2 separate regions of the Homo sapiens genome follow, and region 2 is linked to region 1. The links come from fine-mapping of genetic effects on gene expression. A gene starts in region 1. The other region holds a variant in brackets. All regions are shown on one strand. Distances are from middle to middle. Region 1 holds the start of ATG2B (autophagy related 2B). Region 2 overlaps ATG2B (autophagy related 2B).

What was found. PIP is the estimated chance that this variant, and not a neighbour inherited with it, causes the effect.
Region 2: its variant is the best candidate, but not a certain one, in a credible set for the expression of ATG2B in whole blood (INTERVAL, PIP 0.69).

What each region holds. Positions count from the first base shown.
Region 1 is chr14:96,359,145-96,368,447 of GRCh38, forward strand. It overlaps ATG2B (autophagy related 2B), which reads right to left and starts at 4,197. Exons shown (of 42, transcript NM_018036.7): 1 at 3,671-4,197. The coding sequence starts at 3,832. It overlaps GSKIP (GSK3B interacting protein), which reads left to right and starts at 4,382. Exons shown (of 4, transcript NM_016472.5): 1 at 4,382-4,424. RefSeq lists enhancers at 2,757-2,826, 4,068-4,362, 4,283-5,103 and a silencer at 4,305-4,654.
Region 2 is chr14:96,299,651-96,308,953 of GRCh38, forward strand. ATG2B (autophagy related 2B) reads right to left here. Exons shown (of 42, transcript NM_018036.7): 30 at 7,064-7,266; 31 at 5,939-6,165; 32 at 4,845-4,953; 33 at 3,411-3,605; 34 at 2,357-2,458. Among named protein-coding and RNA genes, the nearest start is that of BDKRB1-AS1, 36 kb to the left of the region's middle. The variant A/G (reference allele first, on the strand shown) is at 4,192.

The DNA of each region.
Region 1 (9,303 bases):
GCAGACTGCTTGAGTCCAGGAGTTCAAGACCAGCCTGGGCAACATGGCGAAATCCCGTCTCTACAAAAAATACAAAAAGTAGCCAGGTGTGGTGGCATGCACCTGTAGTCCCAGCTACTGCAGGGAGGGGAGGAGAGGTAGGAGGATCGCTTGAGCCTAGCAGGTTGAGGCTGCAGTAAGCCTAGATCACGCCACTGCACTCCAGTCTGGGTGACAGAGTGAGACCCTGTCTCAAAAAAAAAATAAAATAAAAGGCCTCAGTGTAATAAATTGTTAATGTGTATCTTCTTGAGCTCCTGTAAGAAAAGGGTCTTTGTTTAGTTCACTGCTATATCCCCCAGCCCCTCACAGTGGCACATGCTAAGAGCTCAATAAATGTACTGAATCGATTAATGAAAGAAATTCCATTTAAAAATCAAAAATAAAGGCACAGTCATAGAGTTAAAAAGGAATGAGTCATTAAATCCAACTTCCCACCCCAAATAGAATTTCCTCCTTTCAACATTTTGCCATTTCAACCACTTCTAGGGACAAGGAGTTTATGAAATTTTTAGACAGTCTATTCCAATGATGGAACAATCCCAAACCCCTTGCCTCTATTTCTCCCTCCACTTCATGCCACGTTTAAGGTAGTAATCTCCAAAACTGGATGCATATATCCTAAAGTATTATCAGATGATTCATAAGGATGTGAGAGGAAAATGAGACATTCTATATTAAATTTTCCAAATTTAGATTGAAAAGTTGTACTTATATTTAATATACAAATGGGCACTGGCACCTTCCTTCAAGCCACATATCAAACTGGTACAAAGAGAAAACTAGTAGTTCCACAACAGAGAAGGATTAAGAGTGGTGCCCTCAGTTGGATGTTCCTTCCACTTCTGCACACTGAAACATTTCCACATACATTCTATAGAATAAAACCAGACCTTTAAACAGTAGAATCTTTGTAAAGAGAAAGTGAATGGCAATTACCTTCTGGTTTCCTGGTTTCTCCTATGGCCAAGTGTTTAAGGGTTGGATTTAAAGATAAGCATTTTCCTTTTACACAGAGAAGAATTCTCCACTGACTATTTATGTATTTATGACAATGACTATCAGTAGTACATGCTACCTAGCAGATATTTTCCAAAAAACAAAACATACTTAATCTGTCTTTTCAAAATAAAGATAGCACTTTAATAATGAGTAAGAAAGCAACCACTTTTCAAAGACTACTTGTACTATGAGGAGAACATTTGAAAAACTGTATTTGGAAATGTTTCCATTGTTCCATGATTTTGTTGCTGAAAACAATGTCTATTAAAAACATTGCTTATTTTTTAAGTCATTATCTATATAGTTTACAAAATGTTTAAAAACATGAAAAGACTATTCCAACCAATCTAAGTCTTCTGAACAAAGAGCTTGAAAAACTGAATTTTAAACCTAATTGTGTGTATATATGCAATGTCAATTAGCCATAATAGAAAAACTAATTGAGATCAGGAATGAAAGGAATGTCATTGCTGAGTTCAACAAAATTCTTTGCATAATTGATCATTTAGAATTGAAACAGTAGGAGTACAGCAATTCTTCAATTAGCATCAGTTTTTCCATTAGGATCTGTGAATCTCCGAAGGTACCTTTTTTTCAGTCATGTAAGTCATTAAAATCAAGTATCTGGCTGGGTCCTATGGCTCATGCCTGTAATCTGAGCACTTGGGAGGCAGAAGTGGGAGGACCACTTGAAACCAGGAGTTCAAGACCAGCTTTGGCAACAAAGCAAGAGAATGAATCCTCTACCAAAAAAAAAAAAAAAAAAAAATCAAGTGTGAAAATAAACTGAATTTGGAATCAGAACTCTGAACAGCTGTATCTAAGGGTCACACTAAGATTTATCCTAACCATCAACACAGCACATGAAAATAAATCAGCAACAGCAAATGTTTACTGGATGCTTTGACATTATCATTTTAGTTTACAAAACCCGCCCATCAAGAACAAAACATCATCCTCAGATTAAGTTTAGTAATAAATCATTTTGCCAATGATTCTGAACTCAAACTATAAAATTCAAATATCACTACCTCTGATTTCCCATAAGGACTAAATAAAACCTCACAAATGAAAGTGCCTAGTACAATGCCTGACATAAATACATACTCAATAAACATTAACTGCCTTTCTTTTGATCTTAGGCCATGTGATGTAATACTTGCTAGATGTGTGATGGGGCAAACTGCTTAACTCCATCTGTAAAATGGAAATATTAATGCCCACCTTATAGGGTTAAAGTCATTAAAGGATAATGCATACAAAGCCCTTCCACCCACAAAAGGCATTAATAAATCCTGAACCCTCTTTTTTCAAGATAACCTATTCATAACTGTATCAAAAGTATAGAATCATGGGTTGTTGAATTCAAAAATATCCTTCAGAATCCCTATCTTTTGGAAGAATTACAGGAATACAATACCATAAGACGGACGACACAGAGATGAAGTGTGTGCTCCATTAGTGTTTACTGAACTCAGGTGAATTGCTAAGTCCATTATCACTCGGCTAATTGTGGCGGTCTGGAGAGTCTCTCCAGGGGTAGGACTCTCACCTCCTGGTGAGCGACTGGGTCTTACTGCTCTCAAACCAGGGCTCTTTCCACTATCTTGTGTCCTCTCCCTAGTTTATGTCAGGTACATACTGATAAAATTATATACTGATTTATAGTCTCTAGCACAAATTCGCTTAAGGGTCATAATAAGGTATTTCCATAATTTAAGATTTTCTGTGGCTAAGGAAGTAAGGGTTGGGCAAAGGGTAGAAGTCACTCTATTCCTGTCAAACCCAAAAGTGAATATACTTTAAGTAAAATGCTATGCATTGAACACACAAATGCAGGTACGACTGCATGTGGTGAGTCGAAATTCAGATGAAGCACCTGTATAGCAATGAGTGAATTCACAGCCTCTAGATGACAAGTAGAAGGCAGGTTTTAAAATGTCTGAAAATTGCAACTTCAGCGCTTTTGCAACACCTGCTTTTACGATCTGTCACGTGGAGCAAAGAGGCATAACTCAACAGCACTACTAGGGCCAGACGACCATTCACAGGCTGGATACACAAACCTATCTTGTAAACATATAATCAAGCAAAAGCAGGCAAACCGGCACAAGAGGCCTTCACCTAACTTTCTTCCAGATGGCAAACGCTGCACGATGACAAACAAGGCAAACATGGTGCGCAAGCAGCCAACCCAAAACAAATAACTAGGGATTCTGACATCCAAAGGTCCTCTTCATCCTTAATCCTTCCAGAATGTCATCCCACAAGGCAGGGTTTGTTTGCCACAAAACCCTGCGGCCCCTCACATCCCGAGGGACAGTTCTGGTCACCTCCTCCCACGGACCTATTGAGCCTGCTTCACAGACCCCCGAAGCACTGACTCAATTATTCCCACAGTGTAGATTCCATTACATCTGTTAAAGTTTCCGGAACACGTGATTTAGGAGAGCAAACTTGTTAGAAACAGATTAAACAACACTCTAACACATTTCTCTGAGCCGTGTCACACTCGGGTCCAAACAATTCCCAAGGAGGGACTGACTGTCACCAATCTTGGATGGCACTGGTTCAAAGCGCCCTAAAGAGGGGAGCGAGCCCCGCCCGGCTCGCCGCCGGCAGCTCTTACCCATTTGTCCAAGGGGACCTGGGCGAGGGACCCGGTGCCTTGGTACAGGTCCAGGCTGAGCTGCTCCAGGCTCAGCTTCTCCTGCAGAAAGTGGCCCAGGTACCTCTGCAGGAGGTACCGGCAGGCCCTCTTCTTGATGGACTCCGAAAACGGCCAAGGCATAGTGACTGCTGGCAGCTGGGCTGACTGCGGCTGCGGGTTGCGACGGCTCCGGCCTCGGGGTAGCGACTCCGGCTCCAGGCCGCGGCGGGGCCTAAGCCTGGGGCGGCCCCTCCATCCCTATTTGGTGCCGGGAGTCCCTCAGGGAGACCCCATCGCCGGCGCCGCACCGCTCGCGCTGGGCCTGGCGGAGGCAAGACGCAGAGGGGTCCTCCTGGCCCCAGGCCAGGGGACTTCCGAGGAGGGTCCCAACCGGCTCGGAGAGAGTGCAAGAGAGCGCGAGAGGAGGCGGCAGGGGCTGAGGCAGCCACCGCCACTGCCGCCGCGCGACGAATTTGTTGTCATCCGCGAGGCGCGTTCCCGGCTGTAGGGACGCTCCTGGCGCGTTCACGAGACCCAGACTCCCGGCGCGCCGCCGGGCGCTGGCGGAAGTGACGCCACACTGGGGCCGCGGAAGGCGGGCAGAAGGGCGGGGGCTGGAGCAGTTCCGGCTCCGAGGGGGCGGGGCGGAAGAAGGCGGGGAGGGAGGGGGCGGCACCGCCGGTCGGCTCCAGTCGCCTCCGGAGGAAGGAAGAAGAGGACGCCGGGCGCGCAGGTGAGCGGCAGCCGGGGTGGCTGCGGGCGAGGGGCGGCCCCCGAGAAGGGCTAGGGGCTCGGGGCGCCGGCGGGCCGTCAGGCCTTCCGGATGGGGACGCGACGCCATGCAGCTGGCTGGGCCGAGAGGGGCGGCAGGCTGCAGGGGCCCCGCGCCCGTGTTAAGAGGGGTCTGGGGGCCGGTCTGGCCGGCCTGGCTCTCCCGGCTCCCCTCAGACCTCGGCGCCCCGGAAACGCACACTTGGGGCTCCGCCGTCTCCGCTGGGAGGACTGGAGCCCTTCTCGAGCATCCCCGCCCGCACCCGAGCATTGACCGGTGCCCATTGTCAGCAAGTTCTTCGGCCCCCGCCTCATTCAGGTATTGTTTCTGAGGCAGCTTCTTCGTTGCCGTTTGCCTGGCGGTTTGCAGAGCGCTTCTCGCATACGCTCGCTTAATCCTGGGTGTGTCATAGCAACGATCAGGAAACTTGGGTTTTCGAAGCATCTGTGGGCAAAACTGCATTCCTTGAGAAATGCTAAAGGCTCCTGACCCCGCCGGAACCTGGGTGAAGAACTTGGGCTGTTCTGGCAGTCTGCGCAATCGTATTTCTGCCTTTTGGGAGGTAACTCCTGCAGAGGCGGAGCCGGCTGTTAAGTTAAGTCAACCTCGAAAGGCCTGGGTGCGGGTGTTCTATGGCCCAGAAGCCAGATGTCCTTCGTTAGAATCCCGGCACTGACACCTATTAGCCGCCCAGCCACTTTGAGCGGCCACTGCCCTCCCCGAGCCCACGTTGCCTCCTTTGCCGAGTGTGAGCGGATTAAAATCTTATGTGCATGGATTTGTTGGGAAGATTAAATGATATGAGTAGGGCACGAACCTGAACAGAGTCCTGAAACATACAGCTGTTTAATCACAGTGAATTAAGACGACCAGTTTAAGGAGTGAAATGTTTACTGTCTCGGCAACTTTCATGAATGCCTTGGAAATACAGCCCAAAATATTGGTAGATGGAGAAACATCTGGTTCCCCTTTCCACAACCACCTTTTCGTTTTAGAACCAGGGTACTTTGTATGCAGTTGCTTGGATTGTTGATTTCCCTCATTCTTTGTAGACTCATCTCAAGTATTCTCAGTAACTTAGATTCCCTTGCTCTTCATTCAGAAATATTTGTTAAGGTCCATTAAATGAAAGTCACCACAGTTGATCATGTGAACAGTGTCAAGAATCAGGCCGAACCTTCAAGGAGTTTATGTTCTAAAACGGAAGCATGGTGGTACCTGCTTGTGGAGGCTGAGGCGGAAGGATCGCTTGAGCCCAGGACTTTGAGGCTGCATAATTGCATTGACGCTATCCATAGAGTGCCTGCAATTTCAAATATCAGAAAGGATCGTACGAGCTATGATCATGCCACTGCACTCCAGCCTGAACCACAGAGCAAGACCCTTTCTCTCAATAAAGTGGAAGTTTGTTCATTTATTCAGTAAATATTTATTGATTGCCTTCTGTGTGCCAAGCACTGTTCTAGGTACTGGGATTACAGCAGTGAACAGATAAATCTCTTCCTTCCTGGAACTTACATTTTATTGAAGGGAGGAGACATACAATAAATGAGTGAATAATATGCTTTGTGGTGATAAGGGCTGTTGGAAAAACGAAAGCAATGTAAAGGGAGTGGAGATGGGGAAGAGAGAAGGGACTTGCCATTTTTATATGAGATGGTAAGAGAAATTCTCTTGTTTAATAAGATTACATTTTAGCAGAAACTTGGAGAAAGCTGGGAAGTGAGGCACATGTATACCTGGAAGAGTTGTTTTCCATGCAAGGGGAACAGCAAGTGCAACGCCCTGTCACGGGAGAATGCTTGATGAATTTAGGGAACATCAAGAGTGAGTGAAGGAAAAAGTAGAAGCTGGGCAGTTTGGGGGTGGGGGGTGGGGCGGGCGGGGCGCAGAGGAAGCACATCATGTAGGGCCTCGTAGGCCATTGATAAGAACTTTGGAGCCGGGCACAGTGGCTCACTCCTGTAATCCCAGAACTTTTGGGAGGCCGAGGTGGGCGGATCACTTGAGGTCAGGAGTTCAAGACTAGCATGGCCAACATGGTGAAACCCTGTCTTTACCAAAAATATATAAAAAATCAGTCAGGTGTGATGGCGTGCACCTGTAATCCCAGCTACTTGGGAGGCTGAGGCAGGAGAATTGCTTGAACCCGAGAGGCGGAGGTTGCAGTGAGCCGAGATTGTGCCACTGCACTCCAGCCTGGGCAACAGAGTGAGACTCTATCTTAAAAAAATAAAAAGAACTTTGGCCTTTACTCTGGGTGAGGTGGATTTAGGAGAGGAGTGACACAGTATGGCCTAAGTTTCTATGGGATCATGCTAACTGCTGTTAAGAATAGTCTGGTGTGGAAGTGGGAGGGCCAGAGTGAAAACAGCAGAACCAGTTAGAAGGATATCACCGTAATGCAAGGAAAAGATGACAGTGGTTTGGACCAAAGCGGTAGCGGTGAAAATGATTAGTTAGAAGCAGTTGGATTCTGGATATATTTTGAAGATAAGACATGTTTGTAAATAATAATTCTAATATTTGCCATAAAAGGAATACAAACAAGGTGGTATGAAAAGGCAAAGGTGGGATCTTGCAAGAAATTAGAATAGGCTTTGGAAGGTTTGAAATAGACTTCTGACAAATAGATACAATTTGGACTTCTTTCAGCAGTTATTAAATAAGTGGTTTCCTTTTTCAATATAGAATTGCATTCGGGCTATCCATAGAGTGCCTGCAATTTCAAATATCAGAAAGGAAAATTAAAACGACGGTTTTGCAATAACAAATATGCTCTATTCAGAGTATTGTGTGTTGCCTTGTAAACTTTATGCTTTCTAGGAGAAATTCAGTATAAATGTTAAGGTTTAGGACCTGTCATTATGATATCTTTGGCTACAGTAGGGTACAAACTCATCTCAAATCACAGTGCCATTTTTGTGTTTTGTCAAAGACAAAGTACCTGTCACAAAATGTTAACACCTTGCATTAATTAAGGAAGATGAAAATAATTACCCTGGCCAGGTGTGGTGACGTGCCCCTGTAATCCCAGCACTTTGGAAGGCCAAGGCCGGAAGGATCACCTGAGACCAGGAGTTTGAAACCAGCCTTGGTGCCAGAGCAAGACCCTATTTCAAAAAATAATAATAAATTTTAAAAAAGAAAATAATTACCCAACCGAATATTGTCAGCTTATTAAGAATTATGTAAAAGTTTGAAGTGACAGGTGAGAGGCTGTATGCCAGAGGCTAAATGGGTCATGTCAAAATAATCCTCCTTCAGAGAAATCTGTTAACATGGGAAATGAAAGAAAAGCCAAGGAGATGTATTTGACCTTTTTTAATGACTTGCACCTGAGGTAACAGGACGACGCTGTCAGGGCTCCACACCTCACGGCTCTTGGAGGAATTGTACAACACAGCAGCAGCCAATCCCCCACATAATGTAAAGAGCACCTAACTTGGAGCCACATGGCTTGAGCTTCAGGGTCAGGCTTTCTTCTTGAAAGATAGTGTTAAATACTTTTAATATAATAGATTATATTTTTTCAGCTGTTTGCCCAGCACAGTTCTAAGCACTTTCCATGTATTCATTCATTTAGTTCTCTCAATATCACTTAAAGGTAGATGCTATTTTAACATCATTTTAAAGAGGAGGAATGTGTGACTGAGAAAGATTAAAACATCTTTTTCCAAGTCCCAGAGTAAATTAAGTGGCCAAGCTAAAATTCTAGCCCCAGTCAGTCTGCTTGAGAGCCTGTTAACCATCACATCTTCCTGGCCCCTTGTTCATATTGAGAGGATTTACCAGGTTGTAGTGTGTGATACAAATAAAGGTAATCATGATTAAGATATCGTATCCTGCCCTCAGCTGACTGTTAACAATGTCAACTGAAAGGTCAGACTTTCAAAGTGAAAATTTGCACTCCATATGTTCTTGAAATCTTTCTGGGGCTGTTCTTTTGTCAGACTAAGTATATATGACTGTCTTTGCCCATTTTTTTGTCATCAAGGATAAAGCTCTTTGATGCTCTGAACTCGTAATGAAACAAAATAGTCTAATAAATTAGGAAGTAAAGAATAAACGATTTAGTAATCAATGTCATAATAACCAGTTGGATGAATCCTCCAAAAACACAAACACCCGAACACCGCCCAAAAATTATGGAGAAAGAGCTGGTTCCTAAATAATTTATGTATGATGTTTTAAGGAATCATTTATGGAAACTTTACATCAGGTGATACAACCTACCAGAATAAATAATAGCAATTGTCAAGTATTCCAATTTTTGTCTCTTTGCTAGAAACAGAATATTGCTCAGGATCTGGTAGAGAACCAATTTGGAGTTTAAATGGAAAGCAGTGAGGTTTTCTATTTTATGTCTCTGTAGATATTGATTTATGTTTGTTAGAATGTACTTTAAATATAGTGCCAAGTAATACTTATTTCCTAGAGGATTATATAGAAATAAGAAACTGTAATAACTGGAATTTTTTTTTTTTTTTACATTCCATTTTTGAGTGTCTTTTCCTAGAGTCTCATTTACAGTTTCTGGTTTCGAAGGAAAGGTTTACAAGGTTGTATTGCTACTCTTTTTTTTTTTTTTTTGAGACAGAGTCTCACTTTGTCACTCAGACTGGAGTGCAGTGGCACGATAGCTCATTGTAGCCTCAACCTCCCAGGTTCAACCGATCCTCCTACCTCAGCCCCTAAGTAGCTGGGACTACAGGCTTGTGCCACTAATTTTTGTATTTTTTTGTAGAGACAGGGTTTCACCATGTTGCCCATGCTGGTCTCGAACTCCTGGACTCAAGCAATCCACCCACCTTGGCCTCCCAAAGTGCTGGGATTACAG
Region 2 (9,303 bases), 59 kb before region 1:
CCTCCATCATCCACTTATCCACCAGATGGAACTCATTCCATCTGCAATGCTTACTGCCTGCCCTAAGGGAACACTGAGCTTTGGAAGCAGTTGCACTTACCTTCAATGGCAATGCAGCTTTTTCAAAAACATGAAAGAATAATGTGTTGCTTTCATACTTAACATGATTCAATTAAGAAGAATAAGTGGGGATGTGCTCGGTTAGAAAAATAATACTCAAAGCATTATCATTCACCAACTGATTTGTTTTCACAAGAAAAAATAAACAAAAATATTTGATTTTCTACTCAGACGACCATTTACTATCCCAAAATATGGTATAGCAATCTTAAAAGAGGCGAACTGAAAAGAATTTTTGTGTCAGGTGATATACCTCATTAACGCTTACATATTTGTGGTGTGGCTTTGTTTTCCTAGCTTTTATGTCTTAATGAATTATTTCTCATTCTTCCTCAAGGTAGTCATAAAATTTATTTCCCTGATGGTTCTAAGATTAATAACTCTCCACTTTAAAATCATAATGCTTTATAGTTCTAAATAAGAAATTGTGTTCAATATTAAATTTAAAAGTCTATTAAAGAAAATTAGGGTGGGCACAGTGGCTTATGCCTATCATCCCAGCACTTTGGGAGGCCAAGGTGGGAGGATTACTTGAGCCCAGGAGTTCAAGACCAGTCTGGGCAACATAATGGGACCACGTCTCTACAAAAAAATAAAAATAGAAAATTAGCTGGACATGGTGGTATGCGCCTATAATCCCAGCTGTTCAGGAGTCTGAGGCGGGAGGATAGTTTGAGCCCAGGAGGTCAAGGCTGCAGTGAGCCATGATCTACACTCCAGCCTGGGTGACAGAGTGAGACACTGTGGCGGGGGAAGAAAAAAAGAAAGAAAATTGGGCTTGCTAAGTTTCGTAAAGTCATGCCAGAAAGATGTATCTTACTCAAAGTCTTGTTCACACTGGTGATCGCCACAGATCAATTTTCCCACAAATATTTCATTGTATTTCCACTAGGCCAATCAATATATGGATAAATTTAGTTAAAGTATGGATATCAAAATATCTTCTTTTCATAATGATAAAACATAAACTTAAAGTACTGATTGGCAAGTCTAACCTAGGTCAGAGGCTATAAGCATTAATGTAGAGCTATGCTAAGCTTCTGTACTTCACAGTACATTTTCTCTAAGACAGCGCCTATTTTTTGTTTATAAATATTATTTAAGCTCAGTCTTGAAATATTTGTTACCAGCTTTTAGTTATTCAAGTTTTATTTAAACAACTAATGAACATTATTCAACCAGTACTATTTAAGCAAATTAATAACGTCCACCCCACAAATAAATACTCTACTTCCAAACCTGAGCTCATATCAACACAATTTCTGTCAAGAAGGTTTTGTTATTTCACAGCAGATTAGTTAAAAACTCCATTTATGTTCTGCAATTATCATATGTTATGTTATTATTAAATAACAACAGTTAACATTACTGATCCCTAACCTAGTGTGTCAGGCACCCAGTTAATGTTTTTCACACACTGATTTATTTAATCTTCATTTTAAAAAGCATTATGATACACATATTACTATTTCTCCCATTTTATCAGTGAAGGAACTAAGGCTTGGAGATGTTCAGTAACTTACCCGAAGCCATACAACTAGTAAAAGCTACAGAACTAAGACTGGAACCCAGGTCTGACTCCAAACCCATGCTTCTCGCCATTCTATTACTATACCTTGGCTGCGCATCCTATTTTCATACATCTTGGTAAAAAGTTTCTGGAAGAGGCACCAGCTATGTTTTAAACAGATCGCTGGGTCAAAGCAAAGCCCAGAAGAATTTGATGGGATGCCTGCTAGAATACGGGAAAGTGGATTTCACTGTGCCCAACTCCAGTTTTTTTTAGGGAAAGTCTAAATCTCTGTTGTTTCTGACCTCTTTATGTATACCAATTTACTCATTTGTCATTTTGCCCAGCACAGAAAGAATTCTCTTCCAGATGCTGCAATGAAGACAGAGCAGCATTCAATTCATCAGGGAATCCTCTAATACTCTCTGAAAATGTATGCATATCTGAACTGGGAGTAGAGTACTTGAGGATTAGAGAACAAGAAGCAGGTATTAAGGTCTACATCACACCATGAGTAGGAGACTGGGGAATAACATCTAATGATGTTGACTCAGCCATAGTTCAGATTCCAAACATCTAATGAATTTGCCCTATTCTTTATCAGAAGTTTGCTTTATATATGTAACCGCCATAAAAGTTCAATAATGATAAACATTACAATTTCTTTATTCTGAACATGCAGTCTAATCTAACTGTAACGGCAGGAATCACGCTCATGCTACAAACCTGGTCAATATTGAGGCGGAGCGGCATCAGCGACACTCTCAAGCAGCACTCCTGTGGGGACCTGCCAGATTCTGGACACACGTGTAAGGCTTTCACTGTCAACTACAAGGCAAGAAAGAGAATAACATTTTTCCCCAATAATATGATGACCTTCTTCTCTTTAAAAATAAGAAAAAAAAAGAAAAATTCCTATTCCTATACCATATGAGAAAAAGAGGAATTGTTTACCCTCTTTCCTTAAAAGTCTGAATCAAACATTTTTGGGTCACATGCCCCCATCAATAATCTGATTAAAGGCTGGGCACGGTGGCTCATGCCAGTAATCTCAACACTTTGGGAGGCTAAGGTGGGAGGATTACTTGAGTTCAGGAGTTCCAGACCAGCCTGTGCAATATAGGAAAACCCCAACTCCACAAAAAACAAAAAATTAGCCAGGCACGGTGGTGCACTGCCAGTAGTCCCAGCTACTCAGGAGGTTGAATGGGAGGCTAGTTTGAGCGCAGGAGGTCACGGCTGCAGTGAACTACAATCTGCACTCCAGCCTGGGTCACAGAGTGAGACACTGTTGGGGGGAAAAAAAAAACTGCTTAAAGATGTAGACTCTCTTTAGAGGAAAAATTGCAAATGGATAATGTTGTACTTAGTAACAGTTTACTGAAACCCTGAAGCTAACCATAGGTCCATATGCCAAAATCAAATTCTGTGAGGGACCTCCAAAGTCCTGAAAGAATCATTTCTACCTTACTAAAATGTAAAGAGTGTTAGAAATCTGGAACACCTTCAGCAATACTACCTATTTTGTACTGATCACTAGGGACTTCTACTTTTCCTCAGATATCAATTTATTAGCAATTAGAGTTAATGGACCCTAGAAGTGACATGCAAAATAATTTTTTAAACATAAAACTTTAAGCAATACATTCAAAAGGGACTTTTCACATTAAAATGAGAAAAGATATCTAGTAATTTTCCCTACTTTAACTCTCCTGAAGTTAGATATAATAAAAACACGTTTCCAAAACTAACATAACACAACGATGAGGTTAACTCTTACCATGTTGGAGTGAGCTTTTCGAGGCATTTCTTTACTGCAATACAGGTATAAAAATTTATTCATTTGTGATGTTGCCAAACGATCTCGAATCTCAAGATCCTGAACAATGAACACCTGCCGGGAGACTGGGTGTTCTGAGAGGCTGGAATCACAATCAGGTTTGCATGGCGGGTAGACTTCATGCTGAAACTTCACCTTAACGGGTAAGGAGGAAGAACGCGGAACAGTTCTTTACATTCCTTTTATTAAATTGTATTTTCTCTTTAAAATGCAAAATATCACTCATTTTTCCTCTGAATTCTACCTCAGCTTACAATTCCACCTTCAAAAAACTCAACAACATGACATTCCTTCACTTGTTCACTCATTTATTAATCTACAGTGCTCCCTGCTTGTCCAAGGTTTTGCTTTCCACAGTTTCAGTTACCCATGGTCAACTGAGGTCCAAAAATATTTCAGTATTTTGAAACCAAGAGAAATACCTTCCATATAACTTTTATTTTAGTATAGTGTTATAATTATTCTATTTTATTATTCATTATTGTTAATCTCTTACTATGCCTAACTTAGAAATTAAACTTTATCATAGGTATGTATGTATAGGAAAAACACAGTATACATAAAGTTCAGTACTATTTGCAGTTTCAGGCATCCACTGAGGCTATTACCATGTATGTCTGTGGATAAGGGGGACTATGTGGACCCTACCATACACAGAGAAGCTTGACTAATATTTCTATTTGACCTTGGTAAAATCCCTTATTTCCAAGGAAAATTCTCA[A/G]TAGGAATAAGACATAAAATTATTATCTTGCATACCTATGAAATTGCTTTAAAATGAATCAGCAGAGGCAGGGTTCAAGTTCCAAAAGGAGGCACAGATATGATTAAATACAGGGAATTGTCATCACTACAATATTGCCATGCTAACTATCCTAAAATATGACACTTGGTACAATCTCAGACAAGCTGGTAGAATTAAATGCGTGTGATGCCATCAGTAGTCTGGCCCTACTGGTCTCTAGTCTCACAAAGGACCTGCCAGATGCACTGTCCAAACACAGGCTTTCCCAGACAGATGCTCTAGGGCAGCATCTCCTCAGTCTGACCCTACCTCAGACTTCCTGAATCAGAAACTCTGGGGTGGAGCCCAGAAACCTGTGTTTTAATAAGCCCTCCAGGGGATTCTGGGCTTGCTCAACTGTGAGAACCACCGCTCTAGCGGTAGCCCAGACAAACAAAAATAAAAGAAAAACACCTCAGTCTTCTTAGAACATTTGAGAATGAAAAAGAGGTAAGAGTTTTATACAAGATCCTTGCACTTTTCCAATCCAAAGGGTTGGGACTTAAGGCTCAAGACTACGTGGTGGGGGATAACAAAAGAACCCCCCGCCAATATCCTACTTAAGTGGATTTTTCCTTCAAATGCCATCTTACCTTGCTTAGCTGTATTTCCATTAAAAAGTCATGGTTCCTTCCTTTTCCCCCACATACTGTATTACGTCCATGTCTCGTGGGTGTGTGAGAAGGCGAACTGTGGGGACTACTAAAAATGAGCAAAAAAAAAAAAAACCCTTTTGTTAAAGGAATATTCAAAGAAAGTCAATGAATGACATTAAGGAAAATGATAAGATGAAAGACAAAGTAAGAGTACAGAGCTATCAGAACGCTGCCACAAATTACTAGAAACCAAAACCGTATCTTCTTTACTCTGTAGACACTGAAACACGCGTTTCATTATTGCCATTAGAGTAATCACCTGCTTGCTAAATACTCAAAACTACAGGAAAAGCTAATTATGATGCTGGGATCCGTATCACAGGATACACTTAGAAATGAGACCTCCTTATAAGCTTCTTGTTACTTTGGAAACCCTTTATAGTCAGAACACAAGTCCTAGGAATCCCAACTAATACACAAAATAATTATAGTAAAGTTGGACGTGTTTTAAAGTCGCTTTTAAGTAGAAAAAGCTGCTGAACTATAGTGTCAAATGTTACTGCTCCACGCAGCCTCCATGCCATGCCCCACCTCAATAAGGAAGTCTGCCCCCTACAGGGATTCTGTCCACCTGATTCTCCCAGCGACCGGCACACTGCACTCGTCTCACAGGCGCTCAATGACCACAGGCTCTCTGCTCAGTGCCCTGCTGAATGCTGGGGACAGGGCATGCCCGACCCCACCTCCTGACACACTTCCTGCGTTTCACTGCCCTCTGTCACTCACATGACTCACAGGACCTACTCATTTTTGTGAAATAGGTACATGGTAGATACCTGAAAATTTCTGCTGAATGAAAATGATGAGAGTCAACATTTTAGTAAAAATACAAATAATACAAATAAGTTCACAATTGGAAAACTGTGAGAGTAACATTTAAATTACAGTTTTTAATACTACTTTATTAATAATTCTTAAAATGATAAATCCTATTTTTCTTTTTTCTCTCTAAAGGGGAAATGGAAAATTCTATTTTTCTAAGAAAAGAATATATTGGCCTCCCAAATAAACTTATATAGAAATTAACTTACATATAACTTTTAGCCGGAGAAGTGGGAGGGACTATTCCAAAATCCTTTCCTCCATAAAGATGCCAGACAAGAGAGACCTCCTTCACCACATAGCGAATCACAGGAATGGGAAAGTGTAAGGGGGCTTTGCTCGTATCGGTCTTATTAACGGGCAGACTGAAATAATTGTCTCTTATCACAATTGCATCATCAACCATGATTTTTATAACTGGTTCTTCTTCCTTCTCCTAAAATAAACAAACAGGTAACACATACTCTCTTTTCTAATTAGAAACAACTGATTATGCTGCACATCTCAAGGGGCATTCTTGCTTCTACATTCTTTTTAATAATTCCAGTATATAAAATAAGGTGATGGTTACCGACATTAGTCACCACAAAGATATTCTGCTTTATTAACCATAAAATAAACTCTCTTTGTTCTACGTAAACCACTCCATAAGGATTTTTTATGGTTTACAATTCGGCTTTCACTACTTGTTTGATAATAAAAAAGCACAAATTTAGTGTGTGGGTATTTTTTTTTGTTTAAAGTCAATACTGCAAACCAAAAGTTAACAAATTTCAACATATGGATGATATTACCATGTTTTTAATAATAGGTTTATCCTGAGTTTGATTGTTTGGATTTTTAAAAATTTAACCAGAAGGTTCTCAGAACTTTGTAAACAAATACGGTCACCTACTGGACAATTCCTGGAAAGTTTCCAAATACACATACACACACACACTTATATCTATACATACACACAAACACACCCCAACCATCAGCCTTCACACAAACCACATCTTATCTTTCCCGATTCTTGGACTAGCAATTCTGTCCAGCAGATCCTTCTGCCATTTAATTTCACGATCCTTGAATAGTCATCTTACTATATAAAAAATCTGGAGTTCAATAATCTATGTTGGAAATTTTGCAAATAGCATTCTTCTCTGAGTCTTTAGATGTGTCACAGAAATAGTACAGTAACCATTCACCAACTGTCAATAGTATATTAAAAAAAAAAAAGTAACTCTGAACTATAAAGAATTTACAAAATCAACAGAATTTTCTCCAGGTACCCTTTGGTCAATTCATTTGTAACACCATTCAAGGCTTCAATAATGTTATTAATTTATTACCTGCATGGCTGCTTTTGGTGCAAAAAGAATGCAAAAGTCATCATTCTCAGTGGGCACACCTGTCATTGCATCACTGATGAAATGGTGAGAGAATGAGGCATAGGTGGGGCCGGACTCCTGGGATACATTCCCACTCTCGTCAGGAAACAGGAAGAGGTCTGAACAACATGGCTCCTGAATTTGAGATTTTTCATCCAAAACACCTAGATAAAAAGATTACAACATTTTGGCACACTTTGAAATATCAACAACAACAAGCATTTTAACCATGTGTCAGATATATGTTGTGTGCTTTTACCTGCAATATCTCATTTATTTCCTAAAATAAGTCTATGAATCTGAGGCTTAAAGAGAGCTAAGTAACATGCACCAAAACACCTCAGCAAGAGTCAGAAATACATCAAAAACCACTAATAGGCCAGGCATGGTGGCTCATGCCTGTAATCCCAGCACTTTAGAAGGCCGAGATGGGTGGATCACCTGAGGTCAGGAGTTACAGACCAGCCTGGCCAACATGATGAAACCCTGTCTCTACTAAAAATACAAAAATCAGCTGGGCATGGTGGCACACACCTGAGTCCCAGCTACCTGGGAGGCCGAGGTAGGAGAATTGTTTGAAGCCGGGAGGTGGAGGTTGCAGTGAGCTGACATCACACCACTGCACTCCAGCCTGCGTGACAGACCAAGAACCTGTCAAAAAAACAAACAAACAAACAAAAAACAACAACTAATAAAAAGACAAATGATAAATTCGAAATGGCAATGTCACAAAGACAGTTTCCTCCCAGTTAGTTGGCGTTGGGGAAGCTCAGCAGTTGCTGGTTAGTGTTGAGTGGAGTTTTGCTTTACCCAGAATTTCACCTTTGACAATTCTGTCCTATAGGCGGAGCTCTGGAAGAAACTTCTTGGACAATATTACAATGTGAGGGGAAACTGGTTACATTTAGCAGAGCCTAAATGTAGGGGGAGGGAAGGGGAAGGGGAGGGAAGAATAGCTGTTGAGCAAGCATTAGGTGGCAGAGGAGGCAGTGATTCAAGTATGAAAAGAAGACCTCTTCCTGGGGCCTGGGATACCCAAACTGGATACCTAATCTTAGGTAGCTATCGCAAAAGATTACATGTGCACCAAAATCTGCATGTCAACATATATTTTAATATGTTTACATTACATATTAAGAGTCACTCATTCTTTTCCCATTCATTCATTAAAACCAAACACTGTGATGAGGCTGAGAACACTAAGCTGAATCAAGAGACATACTGGCTTTAAGAGACTCACAGATTAGATTTTAGATTCTTCTACAGCAGTACCTCAGAATTACTCATCCTTACAGGTACCCAGGGCCTAGTACAGAATCTTGTATATTGAAGCCACCCAGTAAATAATCACTAAATATTCTTTCCCATGTAATTAAGGTAGCTGCATATATACATATACACACACACACATATATAAATATATATAAATACATAAATATATATATACATATATATATAAATACATAAATATATATATACATATATATATATATATATATACACACATATATATATATATATATATATATATTTTTTTTTTTTTTTTTTTTGAGACAGAATCTCGCTCTATTACCCGGGCTGGAGTGCAGTGGCACAATCTTGGCTCACTGCAACCTCCGTCTCCTGGGCTCAGGTGATCCTCCCACCCCACCTAAGCCTCCCAAGTATCTGGGACTATAGGCGCCTGCCAACACATCCCACATCTAGCTTTTTTTTTTTTTTTTTTTAATTGGAGAGATGGGGTTTCACCATGTTGCCGAGGCTGGTCTCAAACTCCTGAGTTCAAGTGATCCACCTGCCTCAGCTTCCCAAAGTGCTAGATTACAGGCATGAGCCACTGTGCCCAGCCTAGCTGCTAACATTTATTACAAATAATGTAGTACATAGAACACTAAAAGCCCCAGTTTGCTTCCTTAGTTCTAATTTATCCTAAATTAGCAAGACAGCAACAGTTAACACTAGACTTTTACAACTCCATGAAATAATTTTTAATTAAGATTTCCCAATATATAGATATAGCTATGACCATTCAATTAGAAGAAAATACTGTTGAAATAGAGGCTTTAAAATGTTTACCTGCTTCCCTTTGGCTTTCAAGGATCTTGAATCACCTGGGTCCCTCTTTGCTTACCCAACTTTATTATCTAATTCTTTTCAATAAGAGAACTTTTGTTTCAGTAAGAACCCGAATGTCATGGCTA